Linked DNA regions of Homo sapiens: region 1 is linked to region 2. The links come from fine-mapping of genetic effects on gene expression. Tissue or cell type: blood mononuclear cells. Region 2 holds a variant in brackets; the other region holds the start of a gene. All regions are shown on one strand. Distances are from middle to middle.

Region 1 (8,100 bases), 130 kb after region 2:
TTTGATCGCCATCTGTCTCCCCTCCACTAGGATATCAACTCCAGGGAGCAAGAACTTTGTATATTTATCCCCAGAGCTGGCAGAGTTCCTGGTGGAGGGCAGGCAGTGAGTAAATATTTGTCTAATAAATACATATGGTATAACTCTTTAAACAAAAAAGTAACATAAAGCTGGCCAGGCATGGTAGCTCATGCTTGTAATCCCAACACTTTGGGAGGCCGAGGCAGGCAGGTCACTTGGGGCCAGGAGTTCAAGACCAGCCTGGCCAACGTGGTGAAACCCCGTCTCTACTTAAAATACAAAAATTAGCCGGGCATAGTGGCGGGCGCCTGTAGTCGCAGCTACTCGGGAGGCTGAGGCAGGAGAATCACTTGAACCCGGGAGGTGCAGGTTGCAGTGAGCCAAGATTGCACCACTGTACTCCAGCCTGGGTGACAGAGCAAGACTCTGTCCCCAAAAAATAAAAAATAAATAAAGCCCCTTAAACTCTGATGATGCTTATGCCAAACATTTCACATGAAATGCTTCTTAAACACAAGCCCTACTCAGAATTCACACTCTATTTCTGTGATTTAGGGATTTAATCTCTTGCTATTTCAGGTTCAGGAATCCAGGAGCTAAAAGAAGAACAAACCCAGTGACTCCTGTCTCTTGGAGTCTGGGCCCAAACTAAACTTGGCTACACGGAGAGAAAGCCCTAATTAGTGCAGAACTTAAAAACAAAACAAACAAACAAAAACAGAGCTGGGGGTGGGGTATCTAGCTTCAACTGGTATGGTACTTGTAGATCCTTCTTGGTGAAAAGGCCTATGAATCAGGGTTTCTTTGTTTTCTCCTTTTTTTTTTGAGACAGAGTCTCACTCTGCTGCCCAGGCTGGAGTGCAGTGGCGCCATCTCGGCTCATTGCAACCTCCGCCCCCTGGGTTCAAGTGATTCTCCTGCCTCAGCCTCCCGAGTAGCTAGAATTACAGGCATGCGCCACCACACCTGGCTAATTTTTGTATTTTTAGTAGAGATGGGGTTTCACCATTTTGGCCAGGCTGGTCTCGAACTCCTGACCTCAGGTGATCTGCCCACCTCGGCCTCCCAAAGTGCTGGGATTGCAGGCGTGAGTCACCGCGTCCAGCCTCTTCTTTTTTAAACTGATAAATAAAAATTGTATATATTATGGAATATAACATGTTTTGATATATGTATACATTGTGGAATGGCTCAGTCAAGCTCATTACCATATATGCATTACCTCACATACTTATTTTTGTGTGGTGAGAACACTTAAAATCTACTCTTAGCAAATTTCAAGTATATCATATTCATATATATATTTGGGTTTTTTTTTTTTTTGAGACCCAGGCTGGGGTGCAGTGGCTGAATCACAGCTCACTGCAGCCTCAATCTCCCACCCAGATTCAAGTGATCCTCCCGCCTCAGCCTCCTGTGTATCGGGCTACGGGGGCGTACCACCACACTCAGCATTTTTTTTTTTTTTAAATTAAATTTTTAGTAGAGATGGGGGTCTGGCTATGTTGACCAAGCTGGTTTTGATCTCCTGAGCTCAAGCGATTCTCCTGCAGGCATGAGCCATTGCACCTGGCCCTGGATCAGGGTGTTCTAATTAAACAATGGGATGTGTTTGGACAATCAGGCTGAATGGAAAGGTATATATTATAAGCCTCTTCTAGGCAAAGCAGTTAGCCTTAACACAGAGATGAAAGCTATGACCCCAGCCAGCAGGAAGCTAGGTGATTTTTCCTGTATCAGGACATGTACATTAGATATTCCACCGGCCTCAAAAGCTTTCCTCAGTTGCTCCATCTTATCATTCAGGGATTGGTCCTCATGTCACCTTCTCAGAGACCATCCTGGCCTCACTATCTAAAGCGACCATACACTTTCCTTTTTTATTTTTTATTTTTTTTGAGACAGGGTCTTGCTCTGTTGCCCAGGCTGGAATGCAGTAGCACCATCACGGCTCACTGCAACCTCGACCTCCCCAGGCTCAGATGATCCTCCCATCTCAGCCTCCCCAGTAGCTGGGACTACAGGCACATTCTACCATGCACGCGCCTATAGTTCGGTATTTTTTGCAGAGATGGGGTTTTGCCATGCTGCCTAGACTGGTCTCAAACTCCTGAGCTCAAGTGATCTACCCAAGTTGGCCTCCCAAACTGCTGGGCCACTGCGCCTGGCACCATTCACTTTCCTTTAACCATTTGATTTTCTTTATAACCATCACTTAGATATTTTCTTCTTCTTTTTTTTTTTTTGAGATGGAGTTTCACTCTTGTTGCCCAGGCTGGAGTGCAATGGCGAGATCTTGGTTCACTGCAACCTCCACCTCTCCAGTTCAAGCGGTTCTCCTGCCTCAGCCTCCTGAGTAGCTGGGATTACAGGTATGCACCACCACGCCTGGTTAATTTTGTATTTTTAGTAGAGACGGAGTTTCATTATGTTGGTGAGGCTGGTCTCGAACTCCTGGCCTCAAGTGATCTGCCCGCCTCAGCCTCCCAAAGTGCTGAGATTACAGACGTGAGCCACCCCGGCGCATTTGGTTGATATTTTCTTGATTGCCTGTCATTTTTACGTATTTATTGTCTGTCTCTTTCTGAACCCACCCAAACTTGCCAGTTCACTGCTATTGGGCTACACTGTCTAATAGGGAAATCACATGTGGTTACCAACCACTTGAAATGTGGCAAGTCAGAATTCAGATGGGCTGTAAGTAAAAAATACACAACACGTTTTGAACACTTAGCACAAAAAAAAATCTAAAACATTACATTACAATTTATTTGATTACATGTAGCAGGAATATTTTAGACATGTTGTATTGAAAGAGTTTTTAAATTGTCACCTAGTTCTTTTTTCTTTTTTTTAATGTGGCTACTTGAACATTTTAAATTACATACGTGGCTCACATTAGACTTCTGTTGGTCGGGGCTGGCCTAGAGGGTGCCTGGCACATAGTAGACGTTCAACAAATATTTGCTGAATGAATAAGTGAAGTCTAACCATTGCTCTGAAGATTTCAACTGTTGCCCATTGTATTTCCTTTACAATGGGCTTTATTCCATTTGAAAATAAGTTAAAACTCTGGCCTTTTTTGTACAGTAACTTGGCAGCTCTCAACAACCCTGCCCACACCCTCAAAACGAAGTTGTCAATCTTTAGGAAAACCCCAGAACTGGAAACAGATTTCTGTTAAAAAGGCAGGCTAGCTACAGATTGCTTTCAGATTGAACTGTAAGGAGGCAATGGAAATCAAACGGAAGCTATAAAAAGATTCACATAGGATCTACACAAACAGTAGGGGCCCTTTTAAAAAGAATTCTACGGGTAACACTCACTGAAAAGAAAGCCCTTATCTAGATGGGAAGGAGAGAGAGCTGCCTTTAACTCAATGCCTGACTTCAGCAAACAAAGAAATGTCATTTCCTAAATTAAAAAGTAACACCACCCCAGGGAATACCCAGATTTCAACCTTCCCACCCACAGTAACAAGCCATCAGCAATCAGAACCCTCCAGACCAGGATGAAGCTTGAACTTGGCTGCAAGATTACCATGAAGTTCTGGAACAAATTCTGAGCCCTAGGCCTTGAACCTGCTCTGAAAATTTCTCCTAAGGAAATTACATTTAAACTCGGGTCCTTCAAGACCTGGGACTCCCGGAATCAATTCTAAATCTATCCCAAGTGGGGTTCCGAGGGAAGGTCGTTGGAGGGGAGAGGGCCAAGGCGTGCATGCGTCTTGGGGTTTTTTTCCCCTTGCATAAGAGACACACCTTTCCCACTGAGATTTTATGTTCATCTGGGCTGGCTTGAGGTATATCCAATATCCTCTGACTTCCACGCTGTCTTCTGATGGGGATGGCAGTTAACAAGAATAGAGGCAAGGTCCCCACCCATCAGTGTATCCTAAATTTGCCTGATCATACATGTCACCAGGGATCAGCGTCTCCAGTCCCGCCCCACCTCCACTGACTTAATCTCCAGTGGGAGAGGCTGGGAATAGATTGTTTCAATAGGGAACCCAGACCCCAGACCCCATTTTTACCGGGTCCCAGCCACCCTCCGAGGAAGGTACTAGGATTATCCCATTTTGCAGATCAAAACTGAGACGTGGGTGGCGGTGGTTCAGTGGCTTGTCCACTGTCACGATCACACAGCTTGTGAGGGACAGAGGTGACTCCCATCCAGACATGCAAGTGCGTCCCCTGGCACCTGGGTACCCAGGGGCACCCACCCCCTTGGGGATCTCCGTTTTAGGGCTTGGTGCCCCCCGCCCCGAGTCCCACCCGGGAGCCCCCTCTGTCCCGGTCGGGGGATCTCCTCCCGCAGAAGCCCGATCTTCCCGATCCTGTCGCCGGCGGGAGTCAGGGTGGCGGCCACTGACAACGAAAGTGAAACAAAGCTGGTCGCCGGGCGCGCACCCCCGCCGGCCCCGCGCGGACCTCCCAGGCCGGACGCCCCCGCCGCGTCCAGCCCCCGCCCCACCCCGCCCAGCCCGCCCCGGGGTCGCCTCCCCCCTCCCCGGGGAGAACGGGCCAGGGCCCCGCCGGGCGGGAACGGGCGCGCCCGGCCCCACTCACCTCCGGCCTCCATGGAGGACGCGAGCGGCCCCCGCGGCAGGCGGCGGGCGCCTCAGCCCCCCGGGCCGCGGGCCCTCATGCCGCCCCCGCGCCGCCCGCCCCGGCCAGGCCGCCGCCGCCGCCCGGAGAGGCCATCAGCTGCTTCCCGTCACATGGCGGTGGGCGCGGGCGGAGACGCGCGGGGGCGGGGCGCAGGGGAAACGGAGGGGGGGTGCGGACGGGATAAAAACGGTGGGGGGCAGCTGAGGGAAAAGATGGAAAATCGGGGAGGCGGTACGCTGACGGGATAAAAGCTGAGGGGTTGCTCAGGGGAAACGGGGGCGGGGAAGACGCGCGAACCAGATAAAAATGGGGCAGGGGTGGGGGGAGCTGAGCGGAAACGGGGTGGGGCGCGAACGGGATAAAACCCAGGGGTTGTGCGGGGTCCTGAGGGGAACCAGCGCCGGATAAAAACGGGGAAGGGAGGGAGGTGAACAGAGCTGAGGGAAACCGGGAAAAGGGGAGCGATAGAAACCGGAGTAGGGGAAGCCGGGCTCAGGGGAAAAGGGGGTGTTGGAGAGTGGTAGAGCCGGGCTGAGAGAAAAACCAAGCAGGGGAAGCGGCGATCCGGGGAGAACGGAGAGAGGGAGACCGAGGGCTGTGGGGGTAAGGGGAACCAAAGGGGCTGAAGCGAAATCGAGGGGAGGGGCAGGTGAAAATGGAGCCATGCGAAGGCCGATGAGGGGGGAAACGGGTAAAAATGGGGGCGGGAGAAATAGGTTGGAGGGAATACTGGCCGAGAAGAAACCTGGGGAGAGCTGGGCTTAGGGGAAAATGGGGAGGGGGTGGAAGGAAGGTGTAATAACCGGGTGCTGGGGAGGACGTAAGAATTGGGGGGTGCGGCGAGGGTCAAGGCTAGGGTAAAACAAGGGGGGCTACTCAATGGCTCCGGTAATGGGAGAGGGAAGTGAGGAGAACACGGGGCGGTGGGGAGAGGAGGGCAGGGTGAAAACCGGAGTGGGGGTGGGAACGAGATAAAAAACGGGGCAGGAGCGATTCGGAAGAAGACTGTCCCCTTACCTACCTACGGCGACAGCCTCGCCTGTCCCCGTCCCCCTGAGAAACCTGCTCTCCCTGTCTACCCGCATAGCCTCAAGAAATGGCTCGCTTGGGTCAGACGCCCCCTTTTTAACATTCCAGGGCCAGGGCAGGAGTCATCATGGAGGCTTTTCATGCCTGAAAGACCCCATTTCTTAGTTGTCCGGTCCCCAGTAGTATCAGTGGCTTGGGGATTTCTTACTGAGCTCAGCTCATTGTCCCCAAAATGCCTCCCCTTACCCCCAACTCGAGCGCTTCCCTTTCCTGCTTTGGGCCCAAGCTCTTCCCGCGGTTCTTGGTGTCAGCTTCATTCAAGTCACTCTCCCGCCTCTCATTCCTTTCTCCCCGCCTTTCTTCGCTTCCCTCCAAGTGCCCTCTCCATTTGCCGGTCACTGGTCCCAGAGCTCCGGATCGCAGTGGTTCCATTTTAAATTTCTTTGCTTCCTAACGCAACCTATGTTTTCTACGGTAACTGAGGTTCCCGTGTTCTTTTTCACCATGGTCTCTCCGTTTTAATGTTTCGGGTTTTTTTACCCAGGCCCCTGTTTTATGAGCCCTGGGTACGTCCTTCCTGTGTCCCGTTTGGCCTCCTGGGTTACACTCCTGTTCACCCCGCTTGGCCGGTTTTTTTTTTTCTTTTCTTTGAACCTGCCGGTTTCTCAGTCTCCCCCTTTTCCGCTGGCTACCTGTCCCTTTCTCGCCGCCCATGTTAACTTTAGCATGCCCCGTTCTCTCTCTTCATTTTCCACTGGGTATTTTTTATGTTTCCCAATTTTAAAAACGGCCCAGCGCACCCCTTTTTTTGGGACTCCACTTTTATCTCTGGCACCAGTGTCGGCCTCCTCCACCTCTGCTCCCATTTAATCGCTAATTTCCTGCCTCCTGAGGACCCCCGTTTTATTGTCCAGGCTCCCCCCTCCCATTTTTCTCTTCTCTAATTTTCTGAGTCTCCATTTTTTGTCTCCCAAATTCCTTCGATTCCTGGAGTCTTACAGGCCTCGTTTTTATGTACACGTCATGGAAAAGAATAAAAGGGTAAGGTCGCGGGGCGCGATGGCTCATGCCTGTAATCCCAGCACTTTGGGAGGCCAAGGCGGGCAGATCACCTGAGGTCAGGAGTTCGAGACCAGCCTGGCCGATATGGCCAAACCCAATCTCTACTAAAAATACAAAAATTAGCTGGGTGTGGTGGCGGGCACCTGTAAACCCGGCTACTCGGGAGACTGAGGCAGGAGAATCACTTGAACCCAGGAGGTGGAGGTTGCAGTGAGCTGAGATCTTGCCATTGCACACCAGCCTGGGTGATGGAGGCTCCGTCTGGAGGAAAAAAAAAAAAAAAAAACAAAAAAGGCGGGGCTGAGGTGAGAAGAATATTGTTACCAATTTTTAAAAAGCTAGTAAAAAAAATTTTTTTTGGCAAGTTCGTTTTTCCAAGTCTTTCAATTTACTAACCAGGTCTCAATCAAGATCACAAAAGCACTTACTTAAAAATAGCTTTATTCCATTATCTTTTAAAAAAGGCATATGATAACCTCAGAACTAATTTCTCCCAACCTCCCCCCACCACATCTTAAAATGTAAATAATGGAGAAGGAGCTGCTTATTTTTCTTTGCAGCAGTTCCTGGCCAGTCCCAACGTGAGAAATATCAGTTGGCACTTATTGCATCATAATACATTTTGCCTAGTAAGGATGATTTTCTAAGTCTCAGTGCATGGGTTATTGCAATTTTCCATCTTGTGTTTTCCTGCGGCAATTATGGGGCTTGTATGTGCTTGTGAGAATTGGGGCTAATATCAAAGCCACAGAATTGTGGAGGCCCCCTTCCCAGGCTCCACCAGGGTTTGAGAAAAACAAGAAAAAAGTCAGTTGCAATGGACCTGAAGTGTGTATCTTCCTGGTCCTGATAAATAGATCTCATGGTCTCTAAGTTAACAATACATGCAGATAAGATTTTTTTTAAAGCACAGTGTAACAACTTGGACTTTGCCACACAAACTGTAATCCACTGTCAACAAGCTTGTGGATTTGGGCATGGATCGTCTTAAAGAAGCCCGAATTCTTCAAAAAATCCTTAAAACTTGAAGACCTGGATTTTACCTGACCCAGGATATTACTGTGCACACAGGACTCAGATATGTGACAGCAGTCACAGCTCAGCTGGTCAAAGGTTTATAGTGTTTGACACCAGGACCATGAAGCTCCCATTTGGTAGTGGAAAAACCCTCAAATATTTCCTATCAACAGATGTGTGTGCTAGAGAAGAGGAAGTTGTGGAAAATATCCCAGTGATCCTACAAAACATTCTCTGTGTTCCTAGCTAGGGTTTTTTTTTTTTTTCACCTCAACAGTTTTTGTGTTTTCTTTTTTTAATCTTGTTGCCTCTGAGTAGTAGACTCTTCAATTCTGGAATTTGGTTGCCGAAGACTCTAAAG
Region 2 (8,104 bases):
CATCTAAAAACATTTCTCTCAAAGTGTCATATGGATAAAAACACCAAGCTTGAAAAATATTTTCATTTTAAAGGATCTCAACCAAAAAGAAGCAAGCATAAGACACAGATAGCACTTTGGCCTAGCCCAGTCCACGCCCTGTTCCTAGGCAGCCATCGAATACTTCTGATGACCTGGGAATTCATTTTTAACTATCTCAGCCATTTGTTCAGGGCCTGCAGGTGAAGAATAGATGAGAATAGTTAGGGACCAGGGCTTCAGAGAATGACTCAAAAAGAAGGACATCACCATGGCTCGGATTCAGGTCACACTCCTGTATCCAATCTCCCTTGCTAAAGAGGTCGTGCCCGCCTGGATGTGGGGCACAATCTTGAGTCAAGACTGCCACAGTCATGTCCACCAATTCTAGGAACAACCCAGTCCAAACCACTGCTAGACGTTCTCTCTTCCCATCCGTCACCCTTCCCAACAATTTAGAGCTGAAAGCTGCTCATACGTGTCAAGATTCAAGACTGCATCTTGCTATTCTGCTTTAGGAATTCAGTCTGCTAGGCACGGAGCCCAAACCATAGGAACAATACAACCAGAAAATTTCCAAATAGAGCTGAGAAGTTCATTCAGAAAACCAAACCCAGGTTATTCTAGACCAGCCAGATTAATTTCTATATATTTACTATAACTGCAATGGTTAACATTGAGTGCCTGTCACATACAGGACACTGAGCTGAGCATTTTGCACCTATTGTCTAATCCTCATGCCAACATTAGGAGGTAAACATCCTATTTTTACAGATGGGGATTCAAAGACATGGAGGACATTATGCCCAAGGTTATGGCTCCATAACTTAGAAAGACAACACTGCTATCTGAAACTTAAACCTGGCCAGGTACGGTGGCTCATGCCTGTAATACCAGCACTTTGGGAGGCTAAGGCGGGTGGATCGCCTGAGGTCAGGAGTTTGAGACCAACCTGGTCAACATGGCAAAACCCCATCTCTACTAAAAATACAAAAATTAGCTGGGCATGATGGTGGGCGCCTGTAATCTCGGCTATTCAGGAGGCTGAGGTAGGAGAATCGCTTGAACCCAGGAGGCAGAGGTTGCATTGAGCTGAGATAGTGCCACTGCACTCCAGCTTGGGTGACAAAAGCAAGACTCTGTCTCAAAAAATTTAATTAATTAATTAAACCTATCTTAAAATGATACTTAATCATGGTGTTATACAGTTGACATATGTTCACAAGAAGCACAGGCCAGACAAATTCCAGAATTCACACTTGATCATAACACTACAGTCAAAAATAAGAACAGGCCAGGCACAGAAGCTCATGCCTGTAATTTTAGCACTTTGGGAGGCTAAGGTGGGAAGATCACTTGAGCCCAGGAGTTCAAAGCCAGCCTGGGCAATACAGCAAAACCCTATCTCTACAAAAAAATACAAAAAAAGTAGTAGCCAGGTGTGGTGGCACACACCTGCAGTCCCAGCTACTCAGGAGGCTGAGGTGAGAGGATAACCTGAGCCCAGGAGGTCGAGGCTGCAGTGAGCTGTGATCACGTCACTGCACTCCAGCCTGGGTGACAGAGTGAGATCCTGTCTCAAATAAATAGGCCGGGTGCAGTGGCTCACGCCCATAATCCCAACACTTTGGGAGGCTGAGGCGGGCAGATCACCTGAGGTCAGCAGTTGGAGACCAGCCTGACCAACATGGTGAAACCCCATCTCTACTAAAAATACAAAAATTAGCCAGGCATGGTGGTGGGTGCCTGCAATCCCAACTACTCAGGAGGCTGAGGCAGGAGAATCGCTTGAACCTGGGAGGCAGAGGTTGCAGTGAGCCCAGATAGTGCCATCGCACTCCAGCCTGGATGACAGAGCGGGACTCTGTCTCAAAATAAATAAATAAATAAAAACAAAAAGATCATGCACACCCAATCAGAAAATACTAGTGATGTCTACCATTTGGGGGTTCTTCCCAATGTTAGCATGAAGTGGCTGTCAGGGGTTAGTAATGAGTGGTCGGTGATAACACATTCCACTTGTTATGATCACCTAGATTTGCCAGAGTTAGCAAATAAAAAGACATTTGGTTAAATGAGAATGTCAGATAAACAACAAATAATTTTTAGTATAAGTATGTTCTGTGCAGTATTCAAGCATACTTATACTAAAAATGTATGCATTGTTGGCCAGCCGTGGTGGCTCATGCCTGTAATCCCAAAACTTTGGGAGGCCGAGACAGGCAGATCACGAGGTCAGGAGATCAAGACCATCCTGGCTAACACGGTGAGACTCCGTCTCTACTGAAAATACAAAAAATTAGCCGGGTGTGGTGGCGGGCGCCTGTGGTCCCAGCTACTTGGGAGGCTGACCTATAGGAGAATGGCATGAACCCGGGAGGCGGAGCTTGCAGTGAGCTGAGATCATGCCACTGCACTCCAGCCTGGGTGACAGAGCAAGAGTCTGTCTCAAAAAAAAAAATAAAGTATGCATTGTTTATCTGAAATTCAAATTTAAAAGAGCATCCTATATTTTATCAGGAAACCCGATAAACAGCAAAGTCATAAAGTACTTTGGTTTATGGTTATGGCACACTACAACCAAGCCCTAAATTGCGGGGCCACAGTTTCCCAAGTACTTTAAAATCTTCTTACCCTTGATCCTCCCAGTATCCTGTGGCTCAGTAAAGTTATGTAACTTGCCCAAGCGACACACAGCAAGAGGGTGGCAGAGCTGGGACCCAGCACCGTGCTCCAGTTCTCCATCCACTCACCATCCCAAAAAAGATACATGGCGCCTCTTAAATGGGAGGGCAGATGTGTGACCACACTTGGCTTCAGAGTGCATGAGTGGAGGGAGAGCTATTATTTAAATCCAGCCGACGTTGCAAACTCTGAAACATCCCACTCTGAATATCCAGACATTCCTAGTAATATGTTCTTTACCCTTTTGATCCTTATGCCCTACTTAGAATTTTCTGCATTTGCTGGAATTCTGGATTAAGAATTCTGGCTACATTGGAACAACAGAATCTATTGTATCCTCCAGCCAAGCTCATTATCTTTGAGTAACAGCATCCCAGCTTTTGTTTGGAGAACATCCCTGCTTGGTCCACAGGGCTTGGAAGGGACTGATCTCGCTCCCTGGCTCCAGAACTGACCCATGACAACACCGCTCCCTTTTGACTCCAGGAGTAGAGAAATGAAGCACTCCTGGCTGGTGAATAGGATACCCCAGAAATTTGTTGGAGCCACTGAGAAATAATCACGCTCTTCCTACAAGCAAGGTGATAAAATGCAAGTGTGGCACTTCCAGTGGCCATTCTGCCACCGTAAGGAAAGGCTGTTTGGATGAAAGCAATCCAGAAAGAAAGCCAAACTGAGAGGTGTAGACAAGGCTTTGCTTTGTCAAGTACCTGGATCTAGCCACGCTGAAGCCAGTGCTACCCATAAACATCTCAGTCCCACAAGCCAAAGAACTCCCCATTTTTGTTGAACCAGTTTGAGATAAGTTTCTCACACTCGCAAACAAAGGGGCTCAGATGAATACAATCAGTGAATATCATCACATTTTCTATCAGTCAACAGGCAAGGTCAAAAACATCTGGAAATCCTGTTCACTCTAAGTTCTAAATATAACCAAAATCCAACCATGGCTCACCGGCCTGGTGCAAGCCACAGTCGTCTTCTTCTTCTATTTATATTTTAAATTTTTTTCTTTTTGAGACAGAGTCTTGCTCTGTCACCCAGGCTGGAGTGCAGTGGTACGAGCATGGCTCACTGCAGCCTTGAACTCCTGGGTTCAAGGGATCCTCCCACCTCAGCCTCCTGAGTAGCTGGAACCACAGGCATGCACCACCACACCCAGCTAATTTTTAAAAATTTTTTGTAGAGACAGGCTCTTGCTACCTTGCCCAGGCTGGTCTCAAACTCCTGGGTTCAAGTGATCCTCCTGCTTCAACCTCCCAAAGCGCTGGGATTACAGGTCTGAGCCACCTTGCCCTGCCTTCTTATTCTTCTTCTTTTTTCACACAGGGTCTTGTCTTGCTCTGTTGCCCAGGCTAGAGTGCAATGGCCCGATCACAGCTCACTGCAGCCTTGACCTCCTGGCTCGAGCAATCCTCCCTCCTCAGCCTCCCAAGTAGCTGGAATCATAGGCATGCACCACCACACCCTGCTTGCAGTCTTCTGACTCATCCACCTGCTTCTATTCAGGCCCCTAGAGTCTGTTCTCAACCAGTGACTAGAAAGATGCTGCTAAAACTGAAGTCAGATCCCACTCTTCCTCTGCTCAAAACCCTCCAATGTGTTCATTTCATGGGGTAAAATGTTTACACTGGTCTCAAAAGCTCTCATGGGCCGGGCATGGTGGTTCATGCCTGTAATCCCAGCACTTTTGGGAGGCCGAGGTGGGTGGATCATTTGAGGTCAGGAGTTCGAGACCAGCCCAGCCAACATGGTGAAACCCCACCTCTACTAAAAATACAAAAGTTAGCCGGTC[G/A]TAGTAGTGGGCGCCTGTGATCCTAGCTACTCAGGAGGCTGAGGCATAAGAATTGCTTGAACAGGGAGGTGGAGATTGCAGTGAGCCAAGATTGCGCTACTGCACTCCAGCCTGGGCAACAGTGTGAGACTCAGTCTCAAATAAATAAATAATAAATAAAGGCTCTCATGATCTGGTCCCACTCCACTCTGGTCACACAAGCTTCCTAGCTGTTCCTCAGACACCTCAGGGGCTTGGCACATGCGGTGGCCTCTCTCTGAGTGCTTTTCCCCCCAGAGGTCCCCGGGATCACTCCCTCAGTTCCTTTAAGTCTTTGCTCAAATGTCACCTTTTTCATGAAGCCTGCTCTGCTTTTTTCTTTTTTCCATAGTACTTGTCACCTTCTATCATCCTTGATAGCTTCCTTATTCCATTTATTGAACTTTTTTTTTTTGAGACAGGGTCTTTCTCTGTCACCCAGGCTGGAGTACAGTGGTGTGATCTCAGCTCACTGCAACTCTGCCTCCCAGGCTCAAGTGATCCTCCCACCTCAGCCTCCTGAGTAGTTGGGACCACGGGCAAGAGCCACCATGTCCAGCTAATTTTTCATAAAGATGATGTTTTGCCATGTTGCCCAGGCTAATCTTGAACTCCTGAGTTCAAGCGATCTGCCTGCCTTGACCTCCCAAAGTGCTAGGATTACAGGCATGAGCCACCACACCAGGCCTAAATTATTTTATTTTTAAGACACGGTCTCAATCTGTTGCCCACGCTGGAATGCAATGGCACAAGCATGGCTCACTGCAGCTGCAAATTCCTGTGCTCATGTGATCCTCCCACCTCGGCCTCCAGAGTAGCTGGGACTACAGGTGCACACCACCATGCCTGGCTACTTTATCATTATTATTATTTTATTATTATTATTATTATTATTAGTAGTAGTAGTAGTAGTAGTAGTAGTAGTAGTAGTAGTAGAGACAGGGTCTCGCTTTGTTGCTCAGGCTGGTCTTGAACTCCTGAGAGATGGTCCCATCTTGGCCTCCCAAAATGCTGGGATTAGAGGCATGAGCCGCTGTGCCTGGCCAGCTTCCCTATTCAGTGACTGTGAAAACAGCTTTTATTTGTTTGTTGTCTGTCTCCCCCACCTAGAATGTGAGCTACAAGAGCACAGGGCTCTTAGCCTGTTTTGCTCTCAGACATATATCCCTAGCACCTAGAACATTGCACGGCACATGGCAGGTGCCCCATACTGGGAAACCATAAGCTGGGATGAAGCTGACCCAGGAAAAAGGAAACAGGTCTGAAAAACAGAAGGGTGGTGTCTGGGAGACTAGACAAACATGAGCCAGAGCCCAGAGGGTGCCCAGGGACGCCTCCTCCATCTGCCCCCAGCCTCAAGGTGGTATCTGGGCTCAGCCCACCCTCTCCCCTCTTGGTTCCACCTTACTGAAGACCCCAGCTACCGTCTTAGCAGACAACTAGGGGCAACCGGCTGCAAGGAAATGTGATTATACACATATGACTAAATAGTAGCGGGGGAAAGTTCTCCTCTTAATCTGAGTTAATTTAAGACTGCTCTTATTATAGTTAATCTGATCAAACAATGACCAGCTTCTCAGACCTGTAGCATGCTACCAATGAATTTTTCATAACTCTGCAGAGACATTTTCTGCCCTGCTGTTAATCATAAACCACAAAGCAGGAGATTTCAAATGTATTTCCGTTTCACCACCTCTTTTCTCCTGGCTTTATTTCCCCTCCCTCCACCCTACCCTTCTCAAGATCTTGCCCATCTATTATTATTATTATTACTATTATTATCATTATGAAGTGGCTTGTGTTTGTTCTGGTGTTAAAGAACCTGCCTCTACCTTAGGGGACCAATAAATTAATGTTATACTTTCAAATCATATTTGAGAAGTGGAGATCATATATTAGAGAGTTTGATTCAATTTGGCAAATGAGACTGCCTTATTTTCCTATAATAAGGAGATGAGGCAGGAAGGAGACGCAAAGGAACCCAGTTTAAAGACAGGAAAATATGTGGTCCTATCCCTTTGTCTCCAGATGAGCCTGAGCCAGGCACAGTGGCTCACCCCTGTAATCCCAGCACTTTGGGAGGCTGAGGCGGGTGGATCACTTGAGGTCAGGAGTTCGAGACCAGCCTGGGCAACATGGAGAAACCCCCATCTCTACTAAAAATACAAAAAAAAAAAAAAATTAGCCAGGCGTGGCAGTGCACGCCTGTAATCCCAGCTACTCGGGAGGCTGAGGCAGGAGAATCTCTTGAACCAGGAAGCAGAGGTTGCAGTGAGCCAAGACAGTGCCACTGCACTCCAGCCTGAGCAACAAAGACAGACTCTGTCTCAAGAAAAAAAAAAAAAAAAAAAAAGCCTGAAACATATTAGACTCCTCCCATGTTGGACTTCATTTGGTTCCTCAAATGCCCCATGCTATCTCCTAACTCTTGGCATTTGTGCATACTGTTCCTGCTGCTTGGAACACCCTTTCCTCGTCTCTAGCTAATGCTGTCATCCTTCAGGTCTTCGCTTTAGCATCACGTCACCAGATCCACGACGTGAAGGCATGTATTCTGTGTCCCAGTACCCAGCACGGTGCCTGACGTGCAACACATATTTGTACATCATTATTTCCACACATGCCAGACTGACATTTGTGTATCTAATGCATTTAACGTAAAGTGGAATAAATGAAGGACTGAATGAATGCTGAGCTCAACAACCAGCTTGCCTTTCAAAGCAGACATCATAGGCCAGGTGTGGGGGCTCATGCCTGTAATCCCAGCACTTTGAGAGACAGAGGTGGGAGGATCGCTTGAGTCCAGAGGTTCGAGATCAGCCTAGGCAACATAGAGAGACCTCATTTCTACAAAAAATTTAAAAATATGTAACTAACCTGCACATTGTGCACATGTACCCTAAAACTTAAAGTATAATAATAATAAATAAATAAATAAATAAATAAAGGCAAAAAAAAAAATTAACCGGGCATGGTGGTGTACCCCAATAGTCCTAACTACTCAGGAGGCTGAGGCAGGAAGATCACTTGAGCCCAAGAGTTCAAGGCTGCAGTGAGCCCATAATCATGCCACTGCACCCCAGCCTAGGCAACAGAGCAAAACTGTCTCTAAACAAACAAACAAAAATAACCACCAAGTAGACATTATAAATGGCTGAATTCTTATCCCAACACCAAAGCTATGACGCTGCTTCTTGAGTTCCCTTTCAGATACCGTGTCCAGAACATTATCGTGATCATCATCAATGGCAGCACATCTTGTTAAGAGTGGACTGGACTATTTATGCATTTTAAATGAACAAAAATCACTGGGAATCAGTCAAGCAGACACAGTAAATGCTACCATCTGGGGTCAAAAAAAAAAAAAGGAAAGTAAATAGACTTGTTTTCCTGTAAAGTGACTGAAGACAGCGTGTAAGAATATTTTAAGTACTGTCAGCAGAGCTAGGGCAAGGCAGATATAATCACAGTGACGACTTCAATAAATACAGTCCTCTTTTGTGTATAAATATTTCATTTTGTTGTTTCAGGAAATACCTGATTGAGGAATTGTTGGTATGACAATAGCACTGGTTGTGCTTAAAACAT

The links. PIP is the estimated chance that this variant, and not a neighbour inherited with it, causes the effect.
Region 1: it holds the start of WSB2, and the variant in region 2 is fine-mapped to the expression of WSB2 in blood mononuclear cells (TOPMed, PIP above 0.99). The same link has a PIP of 0.9 or more in whole blood.

What each region holds. Positions count from the first base shown.
Region 1 is chr12:118,056,447-118,064,546 of GRCh38, forward strand. It overlaps WSB2 (WD repeat and SOCS box containing 2), which reads right to left and starts at 4,733. Exons shown (of 9, transcript NM_018639.5): 1 at 4,590-4,733. The coding sequence starts at 4,602. It overlaps VSIG10 (V-set and immunoglobulin domain containing 10), which reads right to left. Exons shown (of 9, transcript NM_019086.6): 9 at 7,147-8,100. LOC124903030 (a long non-coding RNA gene) reads left to right here and starts at 5,014. Exons shown (of 2, transcript XR_007063479.1): 1 at 5,014-5,234. RefSeq lists a silencer at 4,143-4,192.
Region 2 is chr12:117,931,124-117,939,227 of GRCh38, forward strand. The region is part of intron 1 of KSR2 (kinase suppressor of ras 2); the gene reads right to left. Among named protein-coding and RNA genes, the nearest start is that of KSR2, 34 kb to the right of the region's middle. The variant G/A (reference allele first, on the strand shown) is at 4,499.